Regions from separate parts of the Homo sapiens genome. Here region 1 is linked to region 2. Evidence: fine-mapped expression QTL. Tissue or cell type: whole blood. Region 2 holds a variant in brackets; the other region holds the start of a gene. All regions are shown on one strand. Distances are from middle to middle.

What was found.
Region 1: ESR1 starts here. The variant in region 2 is fine-mapped to the expression of ESR1 in whole blood (TOPMed, PIP above 0.99).

Annotation. Positions count from the first base shown.
Region 1 is chr6:151,803,122-151,811,121 of GRCh38, reverse strand. It overlaps ESR1 (estrogen receptor 1), which reads right to left and starts at 3,440. Exons shown (of 8, transcript NM_000125.4): 1 at 2,758-3,440. The coding sequence starts at 3,209.
Region 2 is chr6:151,753,814-151,762,343 of GRCh38, reverse strand. It overlaps LOC107986529 (a long non-coding RNA gene), which reads left to right. Exons shown (of 2, transcript XR_007059818.1): 2 at 8,416-8,530. It also overlaps a transcript of ESR1 not described here. Among named protein-coding and RNA genes, the nearest start is that of ESR1, 50 kb to the left of the region's middle. The variant C/T (reference allele first, on the strand shown) is at 4,582.

The DNA of each region.
Region 1 (8,000 bases), 49 kb before region 2:
GAAATGGAAGAAGGTAACCACAGCATCTCAATGCTAAATGACGTGACCTTCACATAAATTCTCTGAACATCCAGTGGGACACTCGGGAGGACAGTCCACATGACAGCACCATTCTACAATAGAAAAGTTAAGAATCAGATAGTAAAACTTAGCCTAAATGACTAAAGACACCAACCTAATTTATAAGGGGAAAATGAAGACAATCAAAATAGCCTTTTGATTTGTATAGGTAAAAACAACCAGCCACTTGCCTGAATTTTTTGTTTTCTACTGAACATATAATATTTTAGGCCATTAGCTTTCTAATTTTTTCTTTGAATTCAATCCACAGTAAGAAATACATTTTACATCACAATCAGCACACAGAAGCACATATAATTAAAACAGATTTTCAGGAAACAAAACTTATCCTTACGAAATACCATGCACTCTGATATTTTCTATTATATTCCTTTCCATTTTAGTCCTTTTAAAAAATATTCTAGACTCACTAAACTGAGTTCATGACCCTCTGGGTCATGACAAGCAGTTTGAAAACACTGCTTTCAGCCCCAAAACTTTTGAGAACTACTTAAGAAACTTAAAGTTTCCTAAAAGAGCCCAATCAATCCTTTCCTTTATACCCAGAGTCATTTAAGCAGAAAAACTGAGAGGGGAAAAATACTAAATAATATCTGTCCATATGAAGAACTTGCATAGATGCTTCTTTTCCTTGCTGGATAATAACAGGCAGAATTCTAACAAAAGAGGAAAGATAATCCGGGAAATAAAACACAGGAAAAATCATTCTAAAACTGAATTTCCACACAGAGTCCCATTTGTGCAAGTTTTTTTTTTAATTTTTAAGTTCCTTGTCTCTTTTTTTATTATTCTAAGAGTGTTTGAATATCATGTAATGCAGAAAGTGTAAGATAGGGCATATTACACTGATACCACTTATCACTGGGATGATGAACAATTTTGAATAAGATGCGATCCCCTCTGTATTTGACCAGGTTCACTTTGTAATTATTAGCAAGGCAGTAAATAATCTACCAAGGAGCAGTCTCATTAGTGCCCATTGAAATTCAGCAGCATTAATTTGCAATAAAAGAACTGAAAATTAAATAGGGAAGAAAATGGTTTCTGGAGTCCATCATAAGGTTATGGAATTCACATCATACCAGTGCCTTCCTTCACATCAAGCAGTTTTAAATGTTGTGTGGAATTAGACTTAATCGCTGTACTTTGTTCTTCCATTTAAAAAAAAAAAGGTGGGCAGAAGAAATCCTTTTTCTCTGTTTTAACCCTAAATTAAAACAAGTAAAATTAATTTGAAATATGCCAACCTTTAAAAGTTTTGTTCATTGTTTGTCTTTTGAGTAAAGACAGCTTGGATCTGCGTGGCTGTGGGATGCTCTAAATTTCTCCAAGGCGGCTGAAGATGCACACTGAATACCCCCAGAATCTGCCCTTCAGTATCCTCTGGGGCCAAACTGCACTTTAGTCCCCTTCCTTCTGCTATAAATATCCCTGGAAACAGAATACTGAACAAAAACTGGTCCACGGCTTACAAGGCAGAAAGATATAGGGACACCAGTCCGGATACCAGTGTACAGTTGGGAAATGCCTAATTCAGGACCCAGCCATGTGGCGCCCTGAAGCTTCCAAACCCAGTCCGGGGTACACCTGTCCTGTGGCCACCTAGGAAGGTGTTCACCAGAAGCGCCCACCTAATCCCTCTGCAGGCCCATCAGGAAAACAAAAAACAAAAAACAAAAGGAGAAACTGGGCAAGAGAAAATGGGAGGGAGAGGAGAGGGAGAAAGAACAATTCTTGTAGGGAAAAAAATTAAAATGAGGACACACAACCTTCGCCATTGAAGTCACAAAGTGGTCTCCTGTGTCCTGGACCGGCCGCGCTCCTTCCACAGTGGCTGCGAGGCGCAGACCCTGGCTGACCCGCACGCCACTCCGGGGCATTCTCCCCGGGTGGGACAGGCTTGTCACTGGGCTGGCAGGAGATTATTTTTAAGCACTTGTGCTTCCATATGGCTTGTTTTAAACTCGCGGGACACCTACAAATTTCCGGCTGTCAGAAGTCACATGCCAGCAATCCGCTCCAGCGCGGACTCAGCCAGCTAACTCCGAAATCAGACCCATTCAACTCCCAATCGCTCTCTAAAGCCCCAGGACGTGGGGTGGGGAGGAGGGGAAAGCGGGTGACAGGAATCGCTTCCCAGAAAGTCATCATCATAGCTGACATATTTCCAATCAAATAGTCTAGATGAAAGGAAATTTGGGGAGCACATTAAACAAAAACATTAAAAGGATAAATAAAACTCTGCTGAGCTCTGCTAACTCCAAACACCCCCAACTTTAAATGCCAAGAGCGAGACCTTCCCAAGTGACTCAAAGCGCCCCGTGTTTATTTGCCTGGAGGTGTTTTCCCCCACAAATAACTGCTGCTTTGTCTGGTTTTCCAACGTGTGTTTTGTTAGGAAGCCCGGGCTTTCGGGTCTGCCTCTCGCACGGACGGTAAGTGGGTGGAGAGTACGTTTTTTTCAGCTGCCCGGCGAGAGAACTTGACTCTGAACGCAGCGCGGGCTGCACGCAGAACCCCCGGGCTGGGCCGCGCGCCCCGGGCTCCCTGCGCGCACCCTCGGGTCGCGCGTCCCGCGGCTCCCGCAGCTCCCTAGGCTCTCCCTTCTCCCTCCCTCCCTCCCTCCCTCCTGCCGGGCGCGGCGGCCACCCCGACGGGCGGCGCGGGCGCGGGTACCTGTAGAATGCCGGCGGGCCGGCCTCGCGCACCGTGTAGCCGCTGGGCTCGTTCTCCAGGTAGTAGGGCACCTGCTGGCCGTGGGGCTGCAGGAAAGGCGACAGCTGCGGCGGCGGGTGCAGTAGCATCAGCGGGCTCGGAGACACGCTGTTGAGTGGGGGGAAACCCCCCAGGCCGTTGGAGCCGAACGCCGCAGCCTCAGACCCGGGGCCGTAGGGGAGGCCGGTCTGACCGTAGACCTGCGCGTTGGCGGCGGCCGCGGCGTTGAACTCGTAGGCGGCGCCCTCGGGGTAGTTGTACACGGCGGGCTTGCTGCTGTCCAGGTACACCTCGCCCAGGGGCCGCTCCAGGGGGATCTTGAGCTGCGGACGGTTCAGGGGCTCCAGCTCGTTCCCTTGGATCTGATGCAGTAGGGCCATCCCAGATGCTTTGGTGTGGAGGGTCATGGTCATGGTCCGTGGCCGCGGGCAGGGTGCAGACCGTGTCCCCGCAGGGCAGAAGGCTCAGAAACCGGCGGGCCACCTGGAAAAAGAGCACAGCCCGAGGTTAGAGGCGACGCAGCGCATGTCCCGCCGACACGCGAGCTCTGGCCCCGGCCCTGCCCCGGGAGCCTGCGGGTCCGGTGAAGCCGGGCGACCCGACGGGAGCAAGTGCAGTCCCAGGACGAACGCCCTCCGCCAGCTCCTGGGCTCCCGGGCCTCCAACTTTAAGTACTGGTCTCCCGAGCTCATATGCATTACAAAGGTGCTGGAGGACGGCCAGGGACTGTTGCCTTGCCCTGACATTGGCTTAAACATCACTCCAGGCACAACTCGATTTGGAGCGATCCCAAAGAGCAGCTTCCCTGAACTTTACTTTACTTGTCGTCGCTGCTGGATAGAGGCTGAGTTTCACGGCCAGGGGGCGGGGGCGCACGAGGATCTGCTAAAGGTGGCCCAGGGAAGACTGGGCTTAAAATAAACGCGAAAGACGGATCCAGGGGCCGGCTTTCTCTAATGTGCTGCCTTATGTGCCCCGTGCCAGACTCCGATATATCTCTGTTTGTCTCTCTTTCTGTTTGATTCCCCCTCCTCGTTGGCTAGAAATACGTAGTGTGTACATAGGATGACCCTGGGGAGGACTACACTGTAACCGAGATAGGGCAGATAGAATGGGGTGTGCGGTTGCATACGCAGCCAGCCACAGACAGCTATATTTAGCAGCTGGGGGAACTGACAGGGGGCATCTGAGGGGAAGGGGGCGGAGATTCAGGGTATACATATAGGAAGAGCTGCATTTTGCCATCAGGAGAATGCAACCTGCCAGGACCTCAGTTTCTTCCTCTGCAAAATGCTCCCAAAGTAGATAGACCCTTCCACAACCTTCTGAGATTCTCTCAGCCTGACTTGTGTGTTTATGTTGGACCACAGTACTGTACTTGGTCCCATTAGGAATTCTCATGTGAAGGATGATTCAGAAAAACCTTTGGTTAGGGCGCACATGGGTGTTCATGCCTTCCACAGGTTGGTTATGCAACCAAAACTTCAGAAAACTGAATATAAAATGTGACCTTTTCATACCAAACATAACCTCAGGTCACGAACCAAAGCTTTGGCAATTATGTTACATTGTCGGTCTGGTCCAGCTAACAGATTTTTAAAATGCATTTCTGCATGTCTATCCTTTAGTCCTACAACTCGATCTTCTCGGTTCACTTGGGCTAGGATATGCAGAATCAAATATCCAGATGAAAAACAAATAGAAAAAAGTTTTTAACTGAATTAAAAGTTAAACATGCACACGCACATACACACACACATATATGTGTATATATATATATATATATATATATATACATATTAAGGAGACAAAAAATAGGTGAAGTATATCATGCGTCTATAATCTTGGATAGTTTATACTTTTGAATAAACTTCCTTTGCTGCAGCCTAATAGACTCTGATACAACTATCAATACTTTGTTTTAATTGCTATCCCAAACACCCAACAGAGTATCTGACGAAGTGTTCATGGTCTATCTAAATGCCAAGCTTACTGTTACTAAGAGTTACATTTTTGACTATTTTATATCAAGTATACATTTTATCTAATTCTTACAAAAATAGACCATTGTTGGACAATATGCAAATGTAGCTGAAGCCAAAATCGAGTTTAGCATTAATGACTATAGATTGTCAGCAAATAAAGGGTTAAAAACACATTAGGTGCATCGCAGATATTTCCCTTTATGGCCAGCAATCATTACTTTCCAAAGCAATTTTTTACAGATGATTTAATTTCCATAAATCACACTTTCAATTTTCAAATGCCTTTTTAAAACACATGCAAAAAGCACTTCATAGGGCTCTTAAAAAATGTGAACCTGCCAAATTATATGCAAATGGCACAAAGAATCCTACAAGTCCTGAAAGAAAAAGGAGACACACACATACCCCCATGGAGAACAGCAATCCTCATCTCCCTGCTAGGATACAGACACTAGCCAGAAAGGTAAGTTGCTTTCTCAAAATGCTAAAGCTACAGAGAGAGAAATCAAAACAAGCCTACCCTGCTGGATCAAGAACGTCTTTCCAGAAATGTTCCATGGGCTTGTAGAAGTCAAGGGCCGAGAGAGTGAGAAGGAAGGAAGGAATGTGCTCGCATGTGCGAGTGGCTCAGTGTGTGAACTAGGCAGAGAGAGTGTGTGGATGTGTTTGTGCGTGGAATGGCAGGGATTCGGGAAGCAGCCAGTAGGCAGGGCACTTGGCAGCCCCTCCCGGCAGACACGCAGCTGGGCTACTGCACAGCGCTGGATGAATGGCAGTGGGGAGTGAGGGGAGACTTGCTGTCTGCTCACAGGGAGCAGTGTGGCACAGCCAGAGAAAGCTGTACTGGGGAGGAGAAACCCCAGCCCCTTTGCCCCTACCCTTGGAGGCTGGAAAGTACCCTATGCTTTCTGCTGCCACCCCAAGCAAGAGGAAAAACAGGCTTGCTGTGAATCATAGTCTTACGGCTAAAATAGAATGCCAGTCAAAAGTGTATGGATATCAAGTTTACAAAATAGGACATGGGTGGTTTTTCCGAAAGAATATAATTTAACAATAAAAGCCTTCTGGGATACATGTGGATCAAATGCCTTACTGGCCCTAGCCCCCAGTCTCTGAACAGAGGCATTGCCATGCCTCCGATTGCACCAGGAAACCAGACTTTGGAATAAATGTTTTGGCATTCTAGGGATGTGTTTCCAGCTGAAATGTAATACTCCTCCACTTCGTTAACCAAACCCACAAACCTTTCCATGAATAGCTCAGTTGACTGCTTTCTGTAAACATGTGAAAAATACGTATTATTAAAAGCCTAGGATATGAACATAAGATAAAGGTAGATACCTTTGTTTTAAACTGATTTTAGGCTTTCGAGTTGCACTGACCGTGATTGGGAACGAGGTCTCTCATTTCCCAGTGGCGTTCACATGGATCCACCTCTTGACCACTTTCTCAACTATTCTCTCGGCCATAGTACTAACACGCAATACTGAGGTGCTCCTAGAGTGCCCACGCTCAGGGTCCCAGGACACATGACACCCAATGGAGGCTTTGTTGCCAGACATTAGTCACCACCTTGGATATTAAATGACTCTAATCACAATGCCAGGAGTGGCCGGTCTCTGGCCCTGGGACACTATGCAGTTACTGAGAGATTTATGAGTGGCTCTTGAGACCAGTACAAAAAAGAAATAGAAAGCCATAAAAATGTTAATGATGCCATCATGCAAATATATGTTTTTGTGCTTTGAAAGACCCCCAGTATTGCAGTGTTTGAGCACAGGAGAGCTCTCTCCATAGTCAGTATTGAAAATAAATACTGGATATAAATAAATATTGAAAAGAAAGACTGTTACCCTTTGTTGGTGACAGTGGTGCCTCCTGTAGGTCAACAATGGCCACCCATGCTCTAGACCAGTCCCAGAAAAAAGCAAGAGTATTCAGGGAGGGAGGAGAGAGGAACAGGGGAAAGGAGAAGGAAAGGAAAGGGGATCTGCAATTGTTCACTATTGACATAGGAAGAATAAGAAGGTTAGCTGTCTCCTCACAGGCTTTGATTGTTCAGAGACTTACAATCAAAGTTAGCCCAAGAAGTTCAGTAAAGGCAGTTTTCTTAACCACTTTCTCTCCAGCATTCTCTTCCAAACTCATCTTGGTGAGCCTTGTCCCTGGGCTTGGTGAGCATGGGTGGGAAAGTATACTGTGCTACGCCGACTTTCCTCTTCTGCCTTTGGCAAAAACTTCACTCGGGCTCCCAGCTCTCTTGGCTTCCCTCCCTACCCTCTCCTGCTGGACACACACGTTCCAGCCGTGACTTACTGGCTCTCTCAGGTGAAGAAGGGTAAAGATTGATCTGGCTCCTCCGTTGAATGTGTCTCCAGCCCCACTTTTCCAGCGGTCTGCTGGGCATTGCAGGCTTGTTCAAATATGAGTCACCATTCTCAAACATGGTGTTCCTCTCAACTTCCCCGTGTCTGTGCCCAGCATCACTGTCTCTCCAGCCACCCAGATTAAAATCTCACTGTCTTCTTCGAGGGCTGATTTTCCCTTGCCTTCCACACCTAATCAAGAGGCAATTCCTAAGCCTTCTAGCTTTACAATCTCTCTTTTTCCATTGCATTTCGGCCACTCCCTTTGAGACCCATTACCTTACCTGTCCTAACGGCCTCCTAAGGACCACTCTGCCCTTTCCTCCCGGACTTCATCCTAAACCCTGCAACCTGTTTACTTTCTTGGATTTTTTTTTACTGCTTCAGGATCCATCTTGACATGACCCAGCTCTGTCTTTAACCCAAATCATAGCTTCCCCCATGAGTTCAGGGCTTCCTCTCTGCCCATAACGATCCTTCCTAGTCCATCTCCTCCGACTGTAACCTATGCTTCAGCCAAGCAAAATTTTAATACTCCAAGAACTCAAGGCTTTTCTTTTCTTCTACCTTAAATCCCCACTTTCTTGGCTTGTCAGGGGAAAGCATGCCTCTTGTAATAGGTCCAGCCCAAATGCTACCACATTCATTATTCCTTCCTTTAGTCTCTATTCAAAGAAAATTTCCTCTCCTCTGAATTCTAGTAGTAGTTATCATGCATTTATCAAATTCTTCCTGAATTAGAGTTATTTATCTGTTTTTTATCTCCTCATGCTGCTCATAAGCTCCTTGAGGACAAGGTCTGGCTAGAATTACTTGGGAATTATGAGAACCCAGCACTGTCCCTGGCCATGTT
Region 2 (8,530 bases):
GCACCATGCTGTTTTACTACAAGCTGTACAACATGCTTCCCAATGGATGTTCTAAAAACATGCATACACCTTAGTAAATGTTTATTTCTCATAGGATAAGCCCATGCATGAAAGAATAGATAACGGTGTCAGAATGATGAATTCATTTTCTCCTTCATTTAAGTTAGAATGATAGTTCTTTTTCACCTGAAAGCGGTGTTAGAAGTGTTGTCAACCTTAGCTGCTCAATGGAAGCACCTGGAGAACTTTAAAAGCCACTAAGATCTGGTTACCATCTGCAGAGGTTGTGATTTCACTGGGACTTTTAACCTCCCCAGAGGGTTCTGATGTGCACTCAAGATAAAAAAGCACGTTTTGTTTAGAGTAAGCAGAAGAATTTCAAGGTGTGTCTCCAGATCAGCCATCAACTTCACTTGGGAGCTTTTTAGAAATACAAATTATTGCACTCCCTCCTGGATCTACTGAATAAGAAATTCTGAGGGTGGGGCCCGGCCTTCAGTGTCATAACACACCCTCCCTGTGATTCTGATACTCACTTGAGTTTGAGAACCACTGATGGAGCCTAATTCCTTCAATGAGAGATAACTGAAATCCAGAGAATTTAAATTTGCTTCAGGTCACATGACCCATCCATGGTGGGGCTGGCTATGAAATGATAATGATAGCTAGCATTTATTGAGGGCTTACTGTTCTAGATGGACTGTTTTGCATCAACTAATTAATGTGATCACTGCAACGTTAAAGGGATATGTTCTATTAATATCCTATTTTACAGATGAGGAAACCAAGCCACAGAAATTGCTCAGGGTCACAGGGCTGAGGAGTAGAAAAGCAGGGATTTGAACACCTCCCCAGTCAGGCATGCAATGGGAATATGCCCAAAAACCTGTGAATCTTATTCTAAGAAAGAGAAGTGGGTGAATCTAAATTTCCTATGCAAATGGTTAGGAATAAGAATGACAGAGCCTAGGGTAGTATAGGCCTAAATCTTCATTTCTATTCATGATTGTTTCTACTATTTTAAAGTATTCCATGAGAATGATTATTATTTTCTTTAGTTAAATATCTAATATATATGAAAAAGAAGTATTAAAAAATAAGGCTAAAACGTAAATATTTTAAATAAACACCTGCCAACCACCAAGGTATTGCTGTTCTAGTTTTTTTTTTTAATGCTTTGACCTACATTTCCATGTGTTGAATAATTAGTAGTGGGAAAATGGTATTGGATGAGATATTAAGAAATGTTTGCATACCCTTCGCCCAGCCACTATTTCTCAGGAACAGAACAGCATGCTAGTAGAGAGCGATGTATAGTTACCTTCTTGAAAGTAACATCCTTAGCCATAAATCCATGAAATGTGTACTGAAACATATCAGTATGCTAATAAGCACACAAAAATATTTTCCAATATTCCAAAAAGGTCTCAATCATAGAGTTTTTTATCTTTTAATAGATAAGTGAAACTTTAATCGATCCATTATTTTCTGAACATCTTATCATAGTAACAGTGTCTACCAATTTCTGTAGCACTTTACCAAGAGCTTGCAGCTTCACACATAGCCTCCATCTAGTTCTCACAGCAGTCTGTGGGATAAGTATGTGCAGTGCGTTTACTGTCATGGGTTGCGATGGGGAAGAGCAGGTGCTGGGGGGCAGCAACTCGCCTCGGAGGACTCAAAGAAGTGTCTTACCAGAGAGCATTAAGGGAGCAGGCTGGGGAGCGCAAATAAGCCTATCTGCAAATTCCACATTTACCATAATAGGTCCGGGAAGGAGAGAACAAAACAAAGGATAAGCCAAAATATTCTTCCTAAGACAACAAAGAAAGGACACAGATAATAGGATGGCTCTCAAGATGGAAACACAGAGAAAAGAAGACAGAAGATTACATTATGCTGAAGTCTGAATTGGACAATGGATTTTTAAGAGGAGGGATATTTAATATTCTATTTCTAGATGCTTGTTTGTTGCAATATAGACCCTTTCTTCAATGGAGTTTTCCACCAACTACAATGCCTTGTTGGGTGGTCTTGTGTGGGATTCAAAGAAAGGCAATGAGTTCTACCTCTGGACCCACCCAGTGTGGAACACGACTGTGACCCAAGGGAGGTTAAAGTGACCCACTAATTCAGAAAGGAAGAGCTGAGAACCAAAGAGAGCCCTGAAGAAACAAGTCTCCTGGGAATATGTATATATGGACGTGGTAGGGGAATTGGTCTTCACAAATTGAAGATTGAGCCAACCTTCCCTAGATTTTCCATGATAAGGTGATCCCTGATGTCAGCTTACTCACACATATGCATGTGTGTTTCAGTTAGGTTGTTTAATAAACCATGCATAGACTAATCTGTAGGATAGATTTAGGCAAATTTGATTAAGCTTTTACTGATTTTATAATATTCTGAATTTTACCAACCCTTTCAGGTGCCATTACTTTGAATGGCAAAAACCGCAGTTACTTTTGCACCAACCTAATACCTGAAGGATCCAATTCTGATGATCAGAGAAGCAAAGCTGTACTTTCCTAAGAAGGACCCCTGAGGAAGGTCTGTTCCTTCTTGGGTATGCCACCTGATATACATCCGCAAAAATATTTGTAAAATGTAACCATAGTGCCATGTCATTTTATCAAAAATGAAAATGTGTCCAAGATTTCCATCATCTAAATATCAGCCACCAACTGGTGTTCTGCAGCGTCAAAGCTGCAGGGCATGCTGGGGAAGGCTAAGGAGATACTAAACTAGCTTCAATTATTTGAACACCTTAAATACAGTAAAGAGCCTCTAATTATTTTTCCTGTTATTCTTTTTTTATTATTATTATTATTATACTTTAAGTTTTAGGGTACATGTGCACAATGTGCAGGTTAGTTACATATGTATACATGTGCCATGCTGGTGCGCTGCACCCACTAACTCGTCATCTAGCATTAAGTATATCTCCCAATGAAGAGCCTCTAATTTATAAACATAATTTTAATAGATCAGCAGGACCATATTGTCCTATGTAATGGAACTCACAGGAATATTCTGGTTTTATGTTTGGTTTTCTTTTTTTTTTTTTTTTTTTTTGAGACAGAGTCCAGTCGCCATGCTGGAGTGCAGTGGCATGATCTCGGCTCACTGCAACCTCTGCCTCCCGTGTTCAAGCAATTCTCCTGCCTCAGCCTCTTGAGTAGCTGGGACTACAGGCACGCACCACCACACCCAGCTAATTTCTGTGGTTTTAGTAGAGACAGAGTGTCACCATGTTGGCCAGGATTGTCTTGATCTCTTGACCTCCTGATCCGCCTGCCTTGGCCTCCCAAAGTGCTGGGATTACAGGCGTGAGCCACTGCGTCCGGCCTTATGTTTGGTTTTCTAGACCATGTAGTAGATTTTGAGAAGTTTATTGTTATTACTCCCAAGTTGCTAGTAATTTTTATTTTAACTCATTGTGATGACAAGAACACTGGAAAGAGACTAGGAGAGGCACCTTTTCATGCTTAACTCTGCCAGCAAATCAGTGTGAGACCCTGGGTGAGTCACTGCCTGTCCTCACCCCCAGCTTCCTCTCCTTCTTCTTTTTTTTTTTTTTTTAATTTGAGACAGAGTCTCACTCTGTTGCCCAGGCTGGAGTGCAGTGGCATGATATTGGCTCACTGCAACCTCTGCCTGGTTCAAGCAATTCTCCTGCCTCAGCCTCCTGAGTAGCTGGGATTACAGGCACCCACCACCAGGCCTGCCTAATTTTTGTAGTTTTAGTAGAGATGCGGTTTCACCATGTTGGCCAGGCTGGTCTCGAACTCCTGACCTCAGGTGATCCGCCCACTTTGGCCTCCCAAAGTGCTGGGATTACAGGCATGAGCCACCATCCCTGGCCTTCCTCTTCTATAAAATGAAAGACTGGGCTAGATATTCTCTAAAGTCCCCAGGAACTCACACATGCTATATTTTTCTGATCCTAAATGCATCATTATCATGACTTCTCTTGAAGTATTGTAGAACAGCTAATGAAGAACAAATTGGTTGAAGACTATTAAATAAATACATAAAAAGGAACTGAGGAGACGAGTATATTTTAAGTTGCATTATGACAGGATGTCCCCAGAGGCATCTAAAATAGTAAAAGTAATTTGCTTCTTAGCATCCATTTTGCTACCTCTATTTGGGAAAACAAAGAAACCAGCCCATAACTACCCAAATTCCTACTAAACTTCTACCATGCAGGTGACTCTAAAGAATGCTGAACAGCAAGACCATGAAACTACAAAGAATTCATATGGCCTGCACATTCAAAACTCCCAGGGATTTTGGAGACTTTGCAAAACTTTCCATTCCTAAAATTGTATAAGCCACTTTACAGTTTATAAAATACCTTGCTTCAGAAAACAGTCAAAGGTAAATACTCCCGTACATTCAGCCTCGAAATGGCCTCTGTTTAGAAGCACACTCTAATAGGTTCCTCAAGGTCAGACCATTGCCTTATTACAGGAAATGGATGAAGTCATTCCTGGCTCTCAGTTTTTCTGAAAAACTACCTGCTTTCTCAGTTTCACACACCACACCCCTCTATAGCTCTTGTTTTGTCTCCTCGGT[C/T]GTGGCACCTGTTCTGAGAACTGAAGCTTTCATCTTGGTTCTAGTAGCACATGAGAAAACACATTTGCAAAAGCACAAACAAGCAAAGGGGTCCAAGCGAGAACTTCAATGTTTGGGTGAAACAACAGCTAAATTTGTTCACAGTAATAATAAACATGCATGAGCTCACTCTTTCAGAGAGCAGTAATTTGAGCAGCAATTCTGAGGTCAGGATCCAAGGTTCTAGGCCAGCTCCAGCTCAGTCTGCTCTGACCAGAATATATTTCTTCCAGACTCTCAGGGTCTTGCTTTCAGCCATTTGGGGTACAAGAAAGGAAGATGAGAAGAAAGGCAAGAGACAAGAGAGATGGAAACTTTTTAATATGTCCTTAAAAGCCTCTTTATAGAGATGAGTAATAAAAAGATTGGGGCCAGCAAACATTTCCACATTTTCTCTAAACAGTTATAAAACTGAGAGTCTTCTAAGGTCAGAGTTAAAGTAGTACAGCCTTGTTTTTGTATTTTAAATGTTTTCTTTTTTTTTTTAATGGAACGTTAAAATAGCCTCAGTACCAGTAAAAGGTGTGCACCAGAGTATTATTGGATTCAGGAGAGAGGTAACAGGACCCACTGAGTAGGGAGGTTAGACAGTTCTGATGTGAACCCTCACTAATGCAAAGGAACTCTCTCTGTACCCTCACACATACACATTTTTCTCTCCTCCTCCAATCAAGAAATGATATCCTGTGAGATCATTTATTTTCTTTTTAATTTTTATTTTATTTATTTATTTTGAGACAGAGTCTCGCTCTGTCGCCCAGGCTGGAGTGCAGTGGCTCAATGCCGGCTCACTGCAACCTTCGCCTCCAGGGTTCAAGCGATTCTTGTGCCTCAGCCTCCCGAGTAGCTGGGATTACAGGCATGCACCACCACACCCAGCTAATTTTTGTATTTTTAATAGAGACGGGGTTTCACCATGTTGCCCAGGCTGGTCTTGAACTCCTGACCTCAAGTGATCTGCCCGCCTCGGCCTCCCAAAGTGCTGGGATTACAGGCGTGAGCCATCACGCCCGGCCCATTTAATTTATTTTCACCAGTTAGAATTTGTTACTCTCAATTTATTCAAAAACTATAATTGACAGTACCTACCGGCCAGTACGGTTATAAATATTGGAAATAGAGCATTGGACAAAACAAAGAAGTCTACCCTCATAGAGCTTATATTCTAGTGTAGAGAGACAGACAAATAAATAGGTAGCATACACAGGAGGTTAGAAAGTAATACCAGCACTTTGGGAAGCCAAGGTCAGGAGTTGGAGACCAGCCCGACCAACGTGATGAAACCCTGTCTCTACTAAAAATACAAAAATTAGCCAGGCATGGTGGCACGCGCCTCTAATCCCAGCTACTCGGGAGGCCGAGGCAGGAGAATTGCTTGAACCCAGGAGGTGGAGGTTGCAGTGAGCCAAGATTGCGCCACTGCGCTCCAGCCTAAGTGACAGAGTAATACTCTGTCTCAAAAAGAAAAGAAAGTGAGATAGGAAAAAAAATTTAGTAAGGGAGTAAAATGTACATGGGGAGGAGGGAAAGAAGATGGAGGAAGATGCAGTGTTAAATATGGGGGCCAGGGAAGGACTCATGGAAGTGAAATTTTAATAATCACCTGAAGAAAATGAAGGAACAAGATATGCACTTGAGGAAATAGCAAACAGAAAAGTTCTGGGTCAGAGGCATGTTCAATGCACTCAAGGGGTAGCAAAGAACATGACATCAGAAGGTCAGGAGGGGGCCATGCAGATCTGACTGTTACTGAATGGAAGTGGAGAAGATGGGGAGTTTTTGAAAAGAGTCATGGCTGGGCGCGGTGGCTCACACCTGTAATCCCAGCACTTCGGGAGGCTGAAGCGGGCAGATCACCTGAGGTCAGGAGTTCAAGACCAGCCTGGCCAACATGGCGAAACCCCTTCGCTACTAAAAATACAAAAAGTAGCTGGGCATGGTGGCTGGCACCTATAATCCCAGCTACTTAAGAGGCTGAGACAGGAGAATCACTTGAATCTGGGAGGCGGAAGTTGCAGTGAGTAGAGATCATGCCACTGCTCTCCAGGCTGGATGACAGAGCAAGATTCTGTAAAAAAAAAAAGAAAAGAAAAAGAAAGAAAAGAGTCATGAGGTAACCTGATTTCCATTTTTAAAGGACAGAGCTGACTGGCAGGACAGAGCATGGGCAGGAAAGGCAGGAGCAGGGAAACCAGCTCTGCGGCGGCTCCAACACTCCAGGGAACTCTGGTGATAACTAAGAGCAGGTGGGTAGCAATGGCAGTGATAGGAAGTGGTTAAATTCCAGATAGCCAACAGGATACTCTGATGTTTAGATGAGCCCATGGAAGAGAGGAGTCAAGAATGACCCCATGGTGTTTGGCTTGAGAACTGGAAGGAAGGATCTGCCATAAATCAAGATAGGACTCATTGTAAGAAGAGGAGGTTTAAAGGGGAGATTTGGAATATGTTTTTTGTGTTTTGCTCTTTGCTTTTTTTTTTTGGTTTTGGTTTTGGTTTTTGTTTTTTTTTTTTGAGGCAGGGTCTCACTCTGTCACCCAGGCTGGAATGTAGTGGTGTAATCATAGCTTACTGCAGAATCAACTTCTCAGGCTCAAGCAATCCTCCCGCCTCAGCCTCCCCAGTAACTGGGACTACAGGCATGCACCATCACGTCCAGCTAAGTGTTGTATTTTTTGTAGAGACAGCTTTTCTCTATTGGCCAGACTGGTCTCGAACTCCTGGGCTCAAGTAGTCTGCCCACCTCAGCCTCCTAAAGTGCTGGGATTACAGGCGTGAGCCACCACCCCCAGCCCAGAATTTGGTTTTAGACATGTTAAGTTTGGCAAAGTTCTTAGAAATCCCAGTGGAGATGTCACGTAGCAGTTGGATGGACACGTCTAGAGTTCAAGGAGAAAGGGAGTGATAGGTGGTGTTTGAAGCCATGACTCCAGATGTCAATCTAAGGAGAGAAGTCCAAGGACTTAATCTGAGGAGCACCAGTTTTGAGAGATTGTGGAAAAATGGAGCAACCAGCAGAGGAGACTGAGAAAGTGAGCCAACAGAGAAAGAAAAACCAGGAGGGCAAAGTATGTTGGAAGCCGGGTCGAGGGAGGTCTCAAGATGGAGGGAATGATCAAGTAGGTGAAATGTGGCTAAATGGTCACATAATATAAAAACTGAAAAGTGACATCGGATTTAGCAGTGGTCCCAGGTAAGATAAATGAAGGCTGACTGCTGCTGTAATATGGGCACTAGCCTGAGAGAAATCAATCAAGGTTTAGCTAAATAATTAGAAATTAGGAAAAAATTCTTATCATTTCCGATTGTCCTTTGTTTCATAAATCTTACTTTACAGGCCAAAGGCTAAATAAAATAAACACTCTTTTATCCATCCCTTATGCAAAAAAAAAAAAAATAGCAATAGATAGAGATTTTTATGTTCTCTCCAGCAACAAACTTATAATAATAGACACTTCTTAGCTAACAACAGGAGGTTTAACTATTTTTCACTTTTCTAAACTTCAGGAAATTATAAGCGACTTTTTTCTTAATTTAAAATAAACGTTTGCTTCTTTTCCAAATTATAACTGGAATTCAAAACTGTTTATTTCCATTGACTATTTTGACTTGAGTTTTTGTTCTCCATTTACTCTGTCCTTCCTGCTGCTTCTGAAGGTTTTCTCTGTTTGTGGGAGCATCTCTGATTTCTCTCTTTTTATCCCCTGCAATCTCTGACTCCTCTCCAGGTCTTCATTCTGCATCATCATAGTCGATTTTATCTTGGGCACCATAAAATTCTATTTCTTCCCGCAGTAGCAGGCTGATGTCACCCACAGAACATAATGGATTCTAGGAACAGGCCCACAAGAGGAAAAGTGGGCAAGTACAAATATAGGTAAGAGGAAGAGAGAAGCTGGAGGCTGGGGAA